2 separate regions of the Homo sapiens genome follow, and region 2 is linked to region 1. Evidence: fine-mapped expression QTL. Tissue or cell type: whole blood. Region 1 holds a variant in brackets; the other region holds the start of a gene. All regions are shown on one strand. Distances are from middle to middle.

What was found. PIP is the estimated chance that this variant, and not a neighbour inherited with it, causes the effect.
Region 2: it holds the start of TWIST2, and the variant in region 1 is fine-mapped to the expression of TWIST2 in whole blood (TOPMed, PIP above 0.99). The same link has a PIP of 0.9 or more in blood mononuclear cells.

What each region holds. Positions count from the first base shown.
Region 1 is chr2:238,943,351-238,951,208 of GRCh38, reverse strand. No RefSeq gene overlaps it. Among named protein-coding and RNA genes, the nearest start is that of LINC01940, 21 kb to the right of the region's middle. The variant C/T (reference allele first, on the strand shown) is at 3,008.
Region 2 is chr2:238,844,173-238,852,030 of GRCh38, reverse strand. TWIST2 (twist family bHLH transcription factor 2) reads right to left here and starts at 3,946. Exons shown (of 2, transcript NM_001271893.4): 1 at 3,298-3,946. The coding sequence starts at 3,815. The coding sequence ends at 3,333. LOC100287387 (a long non-coding RNA gene) reads left to right here and starts at 4,124. Exons shown (of 1, transcript NR_157851.1): 1 at 4,124-7,485. RefSeq lists enhancers at 2,435-2,945, 2,946-3,455, 4,989-5,499, 5,500-6,010.

The DNA.
Region 1 (7,858 bases):
TTCCTATTATTTGAGCAAATGGTTTTCTTGTCATTTTAATCTCTGTTCTCTTGCTCATTTGAGATGCTTTATCAGGTTTGTTCTTCCCTCTCAGGATTTAAGTTTCTTTTCCTGCATTCATTCACTCAGCAAACACTGATGGAGCCTCCCTGCCCTGCCCAGTTCACAGAGCTTTGCTTGTGATCTTTGTTGTCCAGGGAGGAATTTAGATGGTGTCCTCGCCCTTTCTTTCTGGGGCTGCCTTCATTCTGCAGGGGCGGGTCCCGCTGTGTGCAAGCTCCACCATCTACGCCAGAGCAAGGGCTGGCGGCAGAGCCCTGGCCTGGCATCTGGGAGGTGAGATCTTGCCTGCTCCCAAGCTGGGGACTTTGGTCTCCCCAGCAGTCATGGAGAGGCTGAGATTCTTCTGCAAAGGAAGCTGTCCCTCCAGGTGCCCGCCTCACAGCCCTTCCTAAAGTCACGTGACGCACCAGGAGGGAAAAGCCCAGCTCCTTTGCTCAACCCAGCAGGGTCCAGGCTTCGGTGGTCCCTTGATGGACCGGAGGAGGATGGAAGCTCTACATCGGGCAGCTGGGGGCCTCCCAGGGTGAGCAGCCAGTGGGGTGAGTGGGAGCTGCTCCTCCGTCCTCCGGCTCAGTATGCCGCCTGCAGTGTGCGCAGCTCGGGATGACGGCTCAGCACATTTCTGTTGATGGCAGAATCAGCATCTGTCCCATACTTTAGTAATTGGCTCTTCTACCAAGTTTTAGTGTGGTTGGCCAGTTTTTGTGTTTTGGTAAATTTTCATCAATGTTTTAACTGTAAGCAGGAGGCAGCTCAATCTGGAGCTGTAGGCTCTCCTGAAGGTTAACCCTGGGCCTTGCCCCTGTCTCAGATGGACTAACTGAGGGCCAGAGAGGTTAATAAACTTGTCCAAAGCCGGAGCTGTTCGCCAGAGAAAGCCCACTCAGGATCCAGGTTTCTGCGTCCGAGGCCAGCGGGCTTCCCAGGAAGTCATTTTGCTCCAGCAGCCCTGAAGTTCAAAGACAGCCCCATGGGGGGTTTATCAGGGGCCCCCTTCCAGGGTTCAAGGGGTGTCAGTGAGGGCATCTGCTTACATGGTGGCCTCAGGGACCAAGGGCATACCAAGCCTGCAATGCCTGAGGAAAGGAGTCCCCTCTGCTCTTCCAGGCAGTGGGCATGTGGGGCCCACGGGACCAAGGCAGATTCTGAAACGTTGGTCTTGGACACAGGCCAGAAGGACAGTTGGCAACCTGCAGCATGTGGTTATTAAGATCCCATCTTGCAGCACCCCCAGACAGATAGTGCGCCCCAGTTGCTCCAGTAAAGAGATCTTCACAACCCAGGCGTTCAACTGCATCCCAAAGGCCACCACTTCCAGCGAACCTTCCAGGGGCCCAACTGATGCCTGCAGACACCAGACCTGGACATGCCAGGAGGAGATGTCATGCTTAGGGTCTTTGGGAGCTTCAGGAGCCAAAGAATCCAGTATAGTTACCCTGGTGAGAATTTAGGACTGGGTTTGGTTTTGAATTTTTTCTTTTTAAGGAAGACACTTTTTTATTGTATTGTTTGAACATTGAGTCAGCTGGGAACAAAGGAATGCAAGTTTGTCCTAAACAGGACTGTCTTCCGGCAGGAAAAGCACCCAGGAAAAGTGGCCACAGGGTTTTAGCTGCGGGGATGATCTTAGAGGAAAGAAACACAGTGAGCTATGCTGGTGCACAGCCAGGCTGGATGCAGAGTGGAGCCGTCCCTGCCAGGAAACCACCTGGGAGACAGTGCTCCCTCACCCTGCAGGTGGCTTCCAGGGGGAGAATCTGCCCCCTTCAGAATGGCATGAGGATGGAATCCTGCATAGCACCAACAGTGACCAGCCTCAGGCATGGGTGCAGGGGTGAGCTAGCCTCATCCACAGCTTCCACAGTGAACTAGCTTTATCCACACACAATGATGACCTACCCTCAACCAAAGCTCCAGGGGTGAGCTAGCCTCATCTACACGCAATGGTGAACTAGCCTCATCCATAGCTTCCACAGTGAGCTAGCCTCATCTGTAGCTCCAACAGTGGGCTAGCCTCATCCGTACATTGATGGTGAGCTAGCCTCATCCACAGCACCAGCACCAACAGTGAGCTAGCCTCATCAGTGGCTCCAACGGTGACTAGCTTCATCCACAGCTCCAGAAGTAAGCTAGCCTTATCCACACACTGAGGGTGAGCTAGCCTCATTTGCACATCAATGGTGAGCTAGCCTCAGCCACAGCACCAATGATGAGCTAATCTAATGTCGTGCAAGTGTTCAGTCCAGACATTCTGATCCCTCCTCAGGGATGACAAATGGAATACTGCACACAACTTACAATGAAAAATCACCCAATTTTTAAAACTCAACAAATTTTTAAAGTGCTTTTACTGGCCACATACAGAAAGAAACAGTTTCACAGCAAACCTTGCTCCAGACTGCTGTGGTAAAGGATGGAGAGGTGGGGACAGGAGTGGAGGAGGGAGTGGGATGGCCATAGGAGGGGAGGGGAAGCTGGGTCCAGCAGCCCAGGATGTGGTCATGGTGTGACTGGTGCTGAGTAACTGGGAGGACTCAAGAGTGACGATGCCTGGACATCCTTCTATCTCTGACTCATGTTGGGAAGGTCTTTCAAACTCTTTTCATCTTGCAGAGAGGCAGAGCATTCTGGAGACCAACACTTCCTGGGCGGCGCTCAGAGTGGGTGACTCTGCAGAGAGCACCTGCCAGGTGTGATCTCGGACTCAGAGTTCAATCTGCATTTAGCTGACAATGAACTGCAAACTCTGAAAATGTTCACAGCCATGGAGAATAATCTAGAAATCCTCAGTCCATTGGGAAACAGTGTGGGTCAGGGAGTGTAACCAACAGCTGGAGGTGAAGCTGGGACCAGTCAGTGAGGTTAACCACACCAGGGAAGAGGAAGAGAAACCAGTCAGGGCCAAAACGGAGCTTTCATCGATGTCTGAGGGGGCCTTGTCCAT[C/T]CTGTTTGTGGATTTGGTTGTGTGTGCCTGGGTATTAATTTCTTAGGGCCACTGTAACTGCAAACTGGGTGGCGTAAAATGACAGAAACTCACTATCTCACAGCTCTGGAGAACAGAAGTCCAAAACTAAGCTGTGGGCTGGGCCGTGCTCCCTTGGAAGGCTTGGGGAGGCTCCTTCCTGCCTCTCCCAGCTTTGGGTGGCTCCGCCCCTCCTTGGCTGGTGGCTGCAGCACTCCAATCTCTGCCTTCTGCTCTGTCTTCACACGGCCTTCCCTCTGTGTCTCTGTGTCCTCTTCTCCTCTTATAAGGACAACAGTGATGAGATTTGAGGCCTACCCCGCATGCAGATAATCTGATCTCAAGATTATCACCTTAATTACATCTGTAAAGACCTTATTCCTAAATAAAGTTGCCCTCTGAGTTCTGAGTGGACATGAATTTGCAGGGCAGGCTACTCTTCAACCCACTATGGTAAGTACCTAATTTGCTGCATATCTATTTTACCTGTATTAGTACTGATGGCAGTGGCTGTGCCACGCGGCCTGCCGCTGCCATCACATCAGCTGCAACAGGGAGGTGCAGCTGGGGTTGCACATTCTGTGGAACCAGCGGGAGCTGGAGACAAGTGAGAGCCCCACCTCTTCCAAGTTGGGATGGGAGCTCCCCAGGTGCTGCTGCAAACTCTGCCCTAAGCACGGCTGCCCAAAGCTGCAGACCCGGGCCTCCCGCTCCACTGAGCAGGCAGGGGCTCTGCCCTCCTGAGAGGGGGCTGCAGCCACCCAAATTGTGGCTGCAGACCTGGGCCTCCCGCTCCACTGAGCAGGCAGGGGCCCTGTGCTCCTGAGGGGGGGCTGCAGCCACCCAAATTGTGGCTGCAGACTTGGGCCTCCTGCTCCACTGAGTAGGCAGGGGCTCTGCCCTCCTGAGAGGGGGCTGCAGCCGCCCAAATTGTGGCTGCAGATCTGGGCATCCCGCTCTGCAGAGCAGGCAGGAGCCCCGCCCCTGCCCCAGGCACAGCTGTAGCCACCCAAACTGGGGCTGCAGACCTAGGCATCCCTGCACTCTTGGGGGGGCCTGGGAAGGCACTCTTGAGGGGGCCTGGGAAGGAACCCTTGTCCTTGCAGGCTCAGTGGTTTCTGGTCCTGCTGCCTAGCCTCTCCCCACTCCTGGCACCCACTTTGATCTCAGAGCAGAGGTGGGGCCAAGCCCAGGCACTTTCACAGCCCAACCAGGTGTGCACACACTTGGGGCAGTGCTGACATGCCAGCCCCCTGCCCCTTCAGCCCCCTCTGGACTTTGGGCACTGAGGAGCATGGGAGGAGAAGCTGAAGGAGAGTTGAGGGCAGCTGGGCACTGGCCTGCAGGTGCCCCTTGGTGCCAGCAACCTGGGTGCCATGAATGGCCACGGGAGGCAGACAGGCTCCTGGGCAGAAGGGGGAGGGTCCCCAGTGAAGCCCCAGCTTCAGGCCAGGGCAGGCATAAAGCCTGGGGGCTGGGCTGCCAGTTCTGAGGACCAGAGGGGGACATCATGGTGCTTTCTCCTGGGCCCATGCATGGCTGCCTGTGGACCAATCAGCATGCACTTCCCTGCTCTGAGGCCCAAAAAAGCCCCAGGCTCAGCCAGAGCAGGACAGAGGACAGAGAGATGACAGAAAGGATGGATGACTAGCTGCAAAGAGGAGCTACCATCTCTGCTGATAGCGGCAGACAACAGGATAACCAGCTGCAGAGAGGAACCGCCCACTCCAGGGCCTCCTCTCTGCTGAGAACTGAACACTCAACAGGACGACCTTCCCACAGAGAGGAGCTACCCACTGTGGGTCTCCTCTGAGCTATTCTAACACTCAATAAAACTCCTCTTCATCTTGTTTACCTTCTACTTGTCTGTGTACCTCATTCTTCCTGGACACAGGACAAGAACTCGGGCAAAGGTACCACTGGCCACAGAGGTTTCTGGCCAGAAAAGCAACACCCTAAAGATCCCATAACAGACCAAGATGGAGAAAGTGGTACTTACTCAATCTTTTCTTAGGGGACATCGTTTATGAAGCTGGTGGGAACAGGATAACCAGATTGGGTGGGCGATGAGACCCTCAGGGGCACACTTAGCACCAGTAAGTAACTGGCAATAATAAGCTGCTGGTTTAGCAGAGGCCAGCAGGGTTTCCTCCAAGGCTCGTGTGTTGCTGCTTGGGTTTTGCAGGGCTGAGGCCACAGCCCTGTTACAGGGACAAGCAGTGAACCACGGCCAAGGAGGGAAGTGCAGAGTGGGGCCTGCCTGCTGGTGGCACCAGAGAGCAAGGCAGGCTGGAGGGTATCCTCTGGGTAGGCTGCAGGAGTCCTCTGCCCTTCCCTATAAAATCTTAGGTGAAATCCAGATTTTGCTCTAGTGCTTGGCAGAAAATTGTTCTTCCTGGAGAATTCTCTGAGACATACATCAAGGATAAAGGGAGGCAAGAACTGAATTTACATGGAAAGAAAACCAACAACCAGGATGTCAGCCCAGCTCTCGCTTGCAAAAAACTCAAGAGCTTGCAGCCAGGGGTGGGGCTGTGGCCATGGTGCTGGGGGATCAGTTCCTGTCAACCAGTAGCCCTTGCTTAAAAATAAAAAAGGTGGAAGGGGCTTTTGGTCTCTGGGAAGGTGTGTCCTTGAACTGTCTAGGCCCCATGACATTTGGAATCTAGATTCTGGCAGGCATTAGGCCAGCAGCAACTGGTGGGGTCGAAAGACAGGTCTGGGCCTGTCCTTGTCCTGGAGTGTCCATGATGTGGTCTTATGGATGACCAGATGTGCTGCTCACAACCACCATGTAAGAAGGGTGGGGTAGTGGCCGTTAATATTATCTCAGTGCCATGGTTTGGATATTTGTCCCTTTCAAAATTCTGTCGAAATTTAATCCCCAATGTGCCAGTATTAAGATGTGGGACATTTAAGAGGTGATTGGGTCATGAGGGCTTTCCCCTAATACATGGATTAATCCATCCAAGGATTAATGGATCAATTGGTTATCACAGGAGTAGGACTGGTGGCTTTATAAGGCAAACCTGAGCTAGCACACGAGCATGCTCAGCCCCTTCACCATGAGATGGCCTGTACCACCTCAGGACTCTGCAAAGAGTTCCCACTAGCAAGAAGGCCCTCACCAGATGAAGCCCCTCAACCTTGGACTTCTCAGCCTCCATAACTTAAAAAAAAATTCCTTTTCTTTATAAACTACCCAGTTTCAGGTGTTCTATTGTAAGCAACAGAAAACAGACTAAGACACTCAGCATTCTGAGGAAGAAACTGAGTCTCAGTGTTGGCCCCAAGATAGCCCAGCCATGAGATGGCAGAGCCTGATTTCAAAGCCAGGTCATCAGGGATCTGCCATCTCTCACCTTTGAATTCTCTGAATCTCAATCCAGAGCTTTTCCTAGTACAATGTGTTTCCTCTACATCACATATGATGGGCAAGAGATCATGACTTTTATTTTATTTTATTTTATTTTTATTTTACAGTTTTGTAGAGACAGGGTCTTACTATGTTGCCCAGGCTGGTCTTGAATTCCGAGCCTCAAGCCATTCTTCTGTCTCAGCCTCCCAAAGTGCTGGGATTACAGGCAGGAGCCACTGCGCCCGGCCAAGATCATGACTTTTATTGGGAACATCTATTGGCTGCCTGTCTGTTTTGCCCCAGATGTGCCATATCTGTTAACCACCTCATAGTTCTTAGGGGGAAAGGCCTTCCTGGCTCCCTTCCAACTTGCCACTCATTGCCATGCTTGTGCCCACCTTGCGGCTGATAGAGAAGTGCCATAGCTAGCTTCTAACATTCCAGGATTCTGTCATCTTCACTTCTGCCTGGGAGCCCCCTTCTGCAATAGCATCCCCCCAACCTTCCCTGGCCTAAAGAGGATGCACCCCACGGAGCTCAGGGACACTGGCACCCCCTCACTGGCACGTTCCTGTGACTCCACAGCTCGGCGTGTGGCCCCTTCCTCCCCCTGCAGCCCTGCAGGCCCTGGTCGGGTGATGTTGCCCCTCAAATCCACTTGTTGTCTGGTGACCAGGAGGGGAGGTGGGGATTAATCCTTTGTGTGGGGTGTTGTGTGTGTGTGTGTGTGTGTGTGTGTGTGTGTGTGTGTGTGTGCTGTCTTGTAAAGCAGAGGCCTCTGTGTCTTCCCCAAGCAAGGGCAGAGCCCTAGGTTTTAACCAGGGAGGAGGGGGCATGTCCACAGCTCCAGTGGGTCAGGGCATCCAGGGTTCCCACATTTTCATGTGCATGGACTTGGCTATTCCCAGTCCATATCTCAGCATCCCAGTCCGCTGTTCCAGTTGGGCCTTGACTTTGGTGGAGACTGGCAGGATGGCCTGGGCCTGAGCCCAATCAGACAGCCCAGTTGGGAGCAGGATCTGTGGTGGGACCCAGACGTAGCAGGGCCTGATTAGAAGTGGCTGAGTGAACCAGGGAGGGCGGAGGGAGAGGGGCAGAGATACTAAGTCGTCTGTCTCTGCCCCATTCCGTAAAGTGTCATAAAATCTAAATCAGAATCACTGCTGGGGTAGAGTTAATAGACGGGGAGGGAAAATGAAATAGGGTTCTTGTAGAACAGGTCCCCAAACTGACCGTGCACAAGAATGCTGAGACGTCGACAGACACACAGAGGCACATGAGGCAGTAAAACGTGCGTTAGTGACAAACGTGCCAGCACTGTGCCCCGACCACCGGTCCTGAAGGAGACTTTCCTAGGAAACAAACAGATCAAGGAGGAAATGAAGACCAGGGAACAATCACACTTAAAATGGAATTGAAATGGTTAGGATCACAACAGCACTTAAAAAGATTTCCAGGCCTTTGAATATCTTCTT
Region 2 (7,858 bases), 99 kb after region 1:
ATATGAGTTTCAGGAAACCTCAGTGAAGTATTCTATCTCAAATGGCCTCAAAGAGCCACTGAAGTCTGAGGAATTCCCTCTCCAGCAAGATGAGTAGCAAGACTTCCCTGATGCAAGGCCGAAAGGACTGCTGATATTTAAGGGGAAAGACCCACATTAACAGGTCAAATCCCTACATCAGATCTTATTGATGGGTATTTTGTAACCAAACATTGCTTATATTCCAGGGAGCTCAGCCTTTCATTCTACTTCTTCTAGGCAAGCAAAAGCTCCATTGGGATTCTGCATTTCTGTTCTTCTCCACGAAGAACTGATTTTCTAGCATCCTGAATACAGCAGTTAACAAACACCTATGAGAAGTAAATTTTCAGGAGGGAGGAAAAGGCTCACATATATTAGATGGTGAAGGGGTCATGCAATTTCTTCAAAGTAGCTAAAAGTTCTCAGAAAAAAAAAAGTTTGTTGAGTGAGGAAATCTACTGAAAATCTGTGCACACTATGCAGAAGTTAGAGAAGATGTTTTCTTTAACCACACAGCAGGGAACAGGACAAATGTCTGATAAGTAATGGTCACCTTCCCCCACCCTCCAAGCCAGGTGTCTGGGACCCTGCTCCGAAGACTCAGGCATTTAATGAGAATACTAAAAAAATCCTTTTGAGATTTTTCTATTAGATGAATCCAACTGACTGGACAAAGACACCTGATTTATTGTCTAATTGTGCTTTTAAATACCAGGCCAAAGAAGAAAGGCAGGATAGATATCGGCAGCACCCGCACTCCACCATCTCTTGCGTTTCTCTTCCTTTCAGAGGACAATTTAGGCTTTGTGCTGCTGTTGCTGTTAGTCTTGACAGTTTTCTTCACATACGTGAAAACATCCCACATCAAACATTAAAATCACTTACAATGTACTGAAATGTCTAGAGATTCTTTGCTGATGCATATAATTAATGCTTCTTAGAAATGCTACAAATAAAAACAAATGCTGTTTAGCAACATTTTCAGGAAATCAAACCAATTATAATCGTATTGATCTTATAGGGAATAATGAGTTAAAGACAAAAAGAATGACAAGATGTCTGCCTAACGTGCCTGATAAATAAAAACAAGGTGTGTCCAGAATCATTCATGGATAAAATTTTTCCATATTTCTTTTCTCTTCTTTTAGAGTATCTATTTAATGAAACTAGCTTGTTTGAACTACTCAGTTATAGTCCAGTATGTAAAAATAAAAATAAATAGGCTCCTTATAGATCATCAGCTCTCCCACTAACTGTGTAATTATCTATTATATTTTCAAGGGCTTTTTTCCAAACAAGCTCTTGGCACTGTTTTTATTTATTTATTACATGTATTGCATTTTATTTTTCTATAATCTTTAATGGTTACCTATGGCTGATTCTCTAAGTTTTGAGGAGTGCGATTATTTTTAAATGAATTTTAAATGTTCCTACTAAATTCTAGCAGCATCATATCTACTGGTATTTGTTTTCAGTAATTTTCTGGAGGGCAGTCTTAACGATAATTAAAGTGACATTTTCCTTAAACACGGCTCAATGTGTGTGTTTTTAAAAAGATGACATTCCTCATCTGTTTGTTCTTATTTCAGATGTGCTATAAACCATGAATGAGGTAAAGCATAAATGGAAGTAACTAATGGAAGCTCATTATTTAGGCAGCAAAAACCAGAATTAATGTATTACCCCACTGTAGCGTTTAGTACTCAGCCAATCCAAACTTTCCTAGAGAAATATGTGATTGAGACACTTTCCATCTGTTTTTGACAAAGACAGGAGAAGATTCCCACAAGTTATTTTCTGCTGAAAATTATTTTTTAAAAACTATACAATTATCATTATCTCAGGAGGCTCTGCAGCTACAGAATTTTCAGTGACACCAAAATAAAAGCTAAAAAAATGAAATAAAACCCACCTGTGCTGGATCAGCTTTTCGTGGCCTCAGCAACAACATTCGCAGATATTATAGAACCACATAAAAAAAGAAATAGATATGTTTGGGAGAATAGGCGGCCGGGTGCTCTTGATTAATCTAAATTCCTTCTGTGTGAAGTAGAGTCTTTTATAAAAACATCGCAAGATGTGCGAGGAACTAAAACATACTAAGGGGGAAGGATTTTTAACTCGGCCCCAGCAAAAAGAACTCTGTGCCCCTCCATGGCCCTGGATGGCGGATGAGAGAGGGGCTCGCCTGCTCACAGAGCCTAAGGACGGCGCCTCCGTGGCTCGAGCTTGTCTAAAGGGACTTGGAAGGTGTCTGGTGAAAAGGACCCGGTGCAGGACGCCCTAATCGCTCTTCCAGAGGAAACCAGAACTTGGAGTGCTCCTGGCAGCTGTGTCCCCCGAGCCTTCTCCTCGCGCAGGGCCCGGCGCGCACAGCCTCCCTGTCCCCCAGACCCGTTTCCCAGCCTGGACCCCTCGCCCATCCCTGCGGGGCTGGATGGGCGGGGCCCCTCCCGGGTACTCCAGGGTCAAGGTTGGGACTCAGGGCTCCCAGTTCCTAGGTCAGCTCCACCTGCCTGCGGGCGCCCTGGGGCTCCGCGCGGCTGCGTCGGACCCGCCTGCCTCAGCGCTCCAGGCTCTGCGCTCTCGGCCCAGGGCCCTTCTCGGGCACACCCGGCCCTGTGGCTGCTCTGGCCCCGAAGCGCAGGGCAGTTTCCTCCCGTCCTCCCCAGGCAAACCCTGGAGCCGCAGGCCCGCACCTCTACGCCCACTGGGCAGGCCAGGGCGCCGACGGCCGGGGACCCCAGGCGCGAGCAGCTGGGTAGATCTGAGTGTCCGCCCGACGGACGCGCTCTACCCTTGCCCAGGAAGAAAGCGAAGCCATTCGCCCGGCAACACCCGGCTCGGGCAGCTTCGCGGGCGGCCTGCGCTGCGGCGGACGCAAAGGGCAGCTGGTCCTCATATCCCAGTCCCCAGCCGGCCCCAGGAGGTTTTTCTGATGCTCGCTCCTTCCACCGCCAACCACGGACACCCACACACCACCGAGAATGAAAACTGCGACCATCTGTCTAAGTATCTTCAGAACCCGCCGGGGGAGTCACCGGTCCGCCGGTTCCCAACTGACACCCTCGCGTGGAAGTCTGCACTCAGGGGTGTCCCTGGGACTGTGAGCGTCCCGCCCGCCCGCCTTCCTTGCTAAGAGGAAAAGCGCACGGCATCCAAGCCCCCGCGGCCCGCGGGGCCTCGCCGAGGAGACACGAGCAGGCCCCAATGCCCCTGCGCCCCTGCCGCCCGCCCCCCGCAGCGGAGGGCGCCCGTCGCGCGCGCAGCACCTACCCTGGCGCGCCGGTCCGGAGGTGGGTGGCGCGGCGCTAGTGGGAGGCGGACATGGACCACGCGCCCTCCATGCGCCACACGGAGAAGGCGTAGCTGAGGCGCTCGTGGGCCACGTAGCTGCAGCTGGTCATCTTATTGTCCATCTCGTCGCTCTGCAGGACCTGGTAGAGGAAGTCTATGTACCTGGCGGCCAGCTTGAGCGTCTGGATCTTGCTCAGCTTGTCAGAGGGCAGCGTGGGGATGATCTTGCGCAGCGCCGCGAAGGCCTCGTTGAGCGACTGGGTGCGCTGGCGCTCGCGCACGTTGGCCAGGATGCGCTGGCTCTGCAGCTCCTCGAAGGACTGCGCGCTGGGGCTGCCCTTCTTGCCGCGCTTGCCCGGGGTCGGGCTGCCATCTTCGCTCGACTTCTTGCTGTAGCGCCGCTTCCGGCCGAAGCGCTTGGGCTGCCTCTCGAGCTCCTCCTCGCTGGTGCCCAGGCTGTCCACGGGGGACACGGGCGAGCTGGAGCCCTCCTCCATGGCGCCCGCCCGGCGCGCGTGGGGCTGGGGGCGCCGGGGCGCCGAGCGCGCGCCGCTGGCCAAGCCCGCGGTCGCCGAGCACACGCTCTCGGAGTTGCTGGAAAGGCTCTGATTTCAAGGCCGGCTTGTGCAAAACCGAGGTCTCCGGGAGAGGAAGTTATTCTAACTTTTTTGGAAACTCTAGCTGGGCTGGGTTGCTAAATAGTTGTCAGGAGCTAGGGCGGCGCGCTGATTGGCCGCGGTGGCCGGGGGCAGGACAAGTTCTGGGGCCTTCGCCGGCCGCCCCCGCCCCCCGGCGCGGCACTTTCAGTTTTGCCTCCCCCTTCGGCCCCGGCGCGGAGGGCATCCCGGGGGCCGGGTCCTCGCCCGCCGCCCGCGCCCCCACCCCGAACGCAGGGCACTCTCAGGCCGCCCCGAGCCCTAGGCCCGGCCAAGCCTGGCTTTGTCTACGCCTCAACGTAGAGATCGGCCCCCACTGGGCTTTGGGGGGTTCTCTCTCTGGGCGTGAGGGGCTAGAGAGGCGAGTCCAGTCCCAGATGCGCTCCCAGAAGATGAGGACGCAGCCAGGAGCCTCCTCGACCTGTGTGGGTCTTGGCCGCCCCCGGGCGCACAGCTAGTCTGCACCGCGGCCCGCAAGCTTAGGCCTGGGGTCTGGGGAGCTGCGCGGGCAGGGGTCTCGGTGTCCGGACCGCCAGTGTAAGGACAGTCGGGGCCCCCTGGAGACGCCCGTGCCCAAGGACATGCCGCCAAGATCCGTGGAGATGCCACCCTTCGGCCAGCGTGCGTGTCGGGGACCATTTCTTACCCTGGCTTGCTGGGGAGCCCCGGCCCCGACGCCCTTCCCGAACCTTCCTTCTAACAGCTTTAAAACAACGCCACAGCGAGCCTCTGCGGGAGCGCCCGGTACCCGCCGCGCCCGCCTGCCTGGCCCTACCCGGGTTGCTGGGCGCGGGTTGGGGCGCCTGCCGGCCCGCCTTGTACGGCCCCAGCCTCTGCGCTCCGCCTTCGCTTCGCGGGTCAGCAGAGGACGGAGGGCGCTCCGGGAGCTGCACGAGGCTGCCCCGGGCCCAGCCTCCGCTGCGCTGGCAGCCCGCGGGCAGCTCCGAGCAGGAGGCTCAGGGTGGCTGGAGTGTGGGGCCCGGCCTCGGTGAGCGACACCACGGACCCCGGCCCCGGGCCATCTGGACGGCGAGCGCGAGCGCGTTTGAAGTGGTTGGGGGGCTCTTTGTTCGCCAGGCCGCTCTGGCTCTGGGCCTGGAGGTGGTTTTTACGGCTTTGATGCCTTTGAACCTATTCCCAGGTGACCCGGGCTCAATTAGGCCCGGGCCTGAGCCGGGCTGTCAGGCAAGCCGCGTGATCAAGGGCGGGCTGGGCCCTTTTATTGAAGTTGAACCCGAGACCGGGGAGTGCTCGGCCTCCGCTGCTCCTCCGGCCGGCCAGGCGGGCCGCGAGGTGGGGCCCGCGGGCCACGACCACCGCGTTGGGAAACCCGAGGACGGCAAAGAGCGGGCCCTTCGCGCCCCTGTCCGAGGGCCCTGGCTCCGGCCGTTCTAGGGGACGTTTTACCAACAATCCGTCCAGGAAGGCAGAACGCCTAGGAGCGGGCCCTCGCATGCATGTGAGTCGGTAGCAGCGCCCTGCGCAGTGTCCGCGCACCGGACCCGCGGCTTCAGTTCGGTGCCTAAAGGTTCTGCAGAGCCACCGCACCCAGCCCCACCCGGCCTGACCGCCCTCCTTCCTCCGCGCTGGGAAGGCCCACGGCCCCTCTAGCCCAACAAAATAGCTTTCCAGGTCCCTTTCTTTAAAATTCTCAAATAAAAATTTAAGGAACGAGAGAGAGAGAGAGAGAGAAGCCAGGTCCCCAGCCGTCCTGCCGGTGCTGGGCTGCAGCCCTTCCTGGGGCTTCACGTCAGATGGAAAGGGCCTGTTTTTCCCGAACTGGCCTTTCCCTGGTTTCTTTGCTCAGAGCAGTGACAGTAGCGATTTGCTGCCCTTTTACCAACCCTGTGTGGGTCCAAGGACCCAGATCCAGGGACATCTTCCCTTTCCCAGATGCGGAGGGCTTTTACTGAGGAGAGGACCTGCCTGGTAGCCTGCTTCGCCATCCTCGTCTCCCTGTCTGCGTGCCCCTGTGTCACTCTGGCTCTGTCGGCGTGTCTCTTTCTCTGTCCTTTCTGTCTCTTTCTCCAGCAGAGAGAGTTCATAGTTTAGTTTGAAAGAAAAACAGCTCAGCTTTGGTCCTGAGCAGCCCAGGGCTCAGCCCAGCCCTGAAGACCAGAGGCCCCGGGGACGCCCTGGAAGGGCAGCGCAAGCTGGATTGCAGGCTCACCTCTGCCTGGGGAGATGGACCTGGAGGATTTCACCTGCGACCCCCCGGGGCGCCCTGGAGCTATCATAACCAGCAGCCCAGTTCAACCGTCTGGATGCACTTTCTTCATGGCGTGTCTTGTCTATTTTAAAATGCTTTAACAATGATTATAGTACTGGAGGCTGTGATACTGACGGCTGCCTGCGGAAAACCTTGCTTAACAGAATTTGGAGTGACTTTCTTATGCTGTATTGCCAGCCCCTCAGAGTCATTACCTGGGCAGTGACCCCTTGCATACATAGGAGAAGCTAAGGCACAGTGGCATTTAGCAGCGTTTCCAATGTCACCTGTATGTTGGCTGGGGAAGTGACAGCATTCCCCTCTTTTGAGGAGGGGAATTTGCTGAATTAAAACCCAAATGAAAATGTCATCAATTTGGGAAATAATACTCAGGTTATTGATTTAGTTTGAGTTTTTCTTTCAAAAATTAAGTCAGTGATAAGGCTAATAAAGCCAATTTATTAATAGCATAAGTAATACAATATATCTCTGTGTGAATACTCTTTGCAGGACCACCCAGGCTCACTTGGACTTCAGTAAAATATCACGCAACAAAGATTCACAGAAGTAAATACAGTTCTTGGGGTACTTATTCATTACTGAGTATGGAAAATCCTGTGAATGCTTCCTTTCATATATGTAAAAAAGTGTGCTTTGTTTCATGTGACTTTGTGTTTTTTAAAAAAAAATGAACTGGTGTTCTGAAAGATTCTTCTATTGCACATTTTCCTTAGGGCAGCAAGTAACAGAAGGTGATATGTTTTCACAGCAAATTTGCCAGCTATTAGATTGGCTTTAATCTTGCTGCAGTAGAATGACACTGCAGGGATTGTCACCTGGGGATAGTCTTCAAGAATAGCAGCCAGGCACGGTGGCTCGCGCCTGTAATCCCCCAACTCTTTGGGAGGCCAAGGCAGGTGGATCACCTGAGGTTGGGAGGTCGAGACCAGCCTGGCCAACATAGTGAAAGCCCATTTGTACTAAAAATACAAAAATTAGCTGGGTGTGGTGGTGCATGCCTGTAATTTCAGCTACTCGGGAGGCTGAGGCAGGATAATCGCTTGAACCCAGGAGGCGGAGGTTGCAGTGAGCCAAGATCATGCCACTGCACTCCAGCCTGGACGATAGAGCAAGACTGTGTCAAAAAAAAAAAAAAAGAAAGAAAAGAAAGAAAAAAGAATACGACGCAATTATACAGCCCCTGGGCTTTCTTAGGATAAGAAACTGTGTACTTGCTCAGATGTGAAAAAAATTTAGTAAACTCTCAGGAGCTAAATAAAGCAATGAATTTATACATTTGAATGCTGTTGTCGCTACCTTTTGTCAAAATGCCTGCACGGGTGAACCCACCTGAGCTCTTCAGCAGATCCTTTTGTAGTTTAACTCTATGAAGTTCTTGTTGGAGCAAGAGACAAAAACCAAGATATCGTTAAAGGTCTAGTTTCCATTCCCAGTGACATGGTGGGTTGTTACCTCCACTTGAATTTAGTGAACTGAGAGCAGATGACAGAGCAGCCCATATTTGTGTGACAGAATCAATCCAACAGATTAATGAATCAATGACATTGATCCGGGGGTTGGTAACAGCATCTCCCAAACAGCACTTCCTTATTTGCAAAGCAAATAGCATTGGCGCAGTAGCAGTCTTACACTAACACAGCGCTCCACTGACACT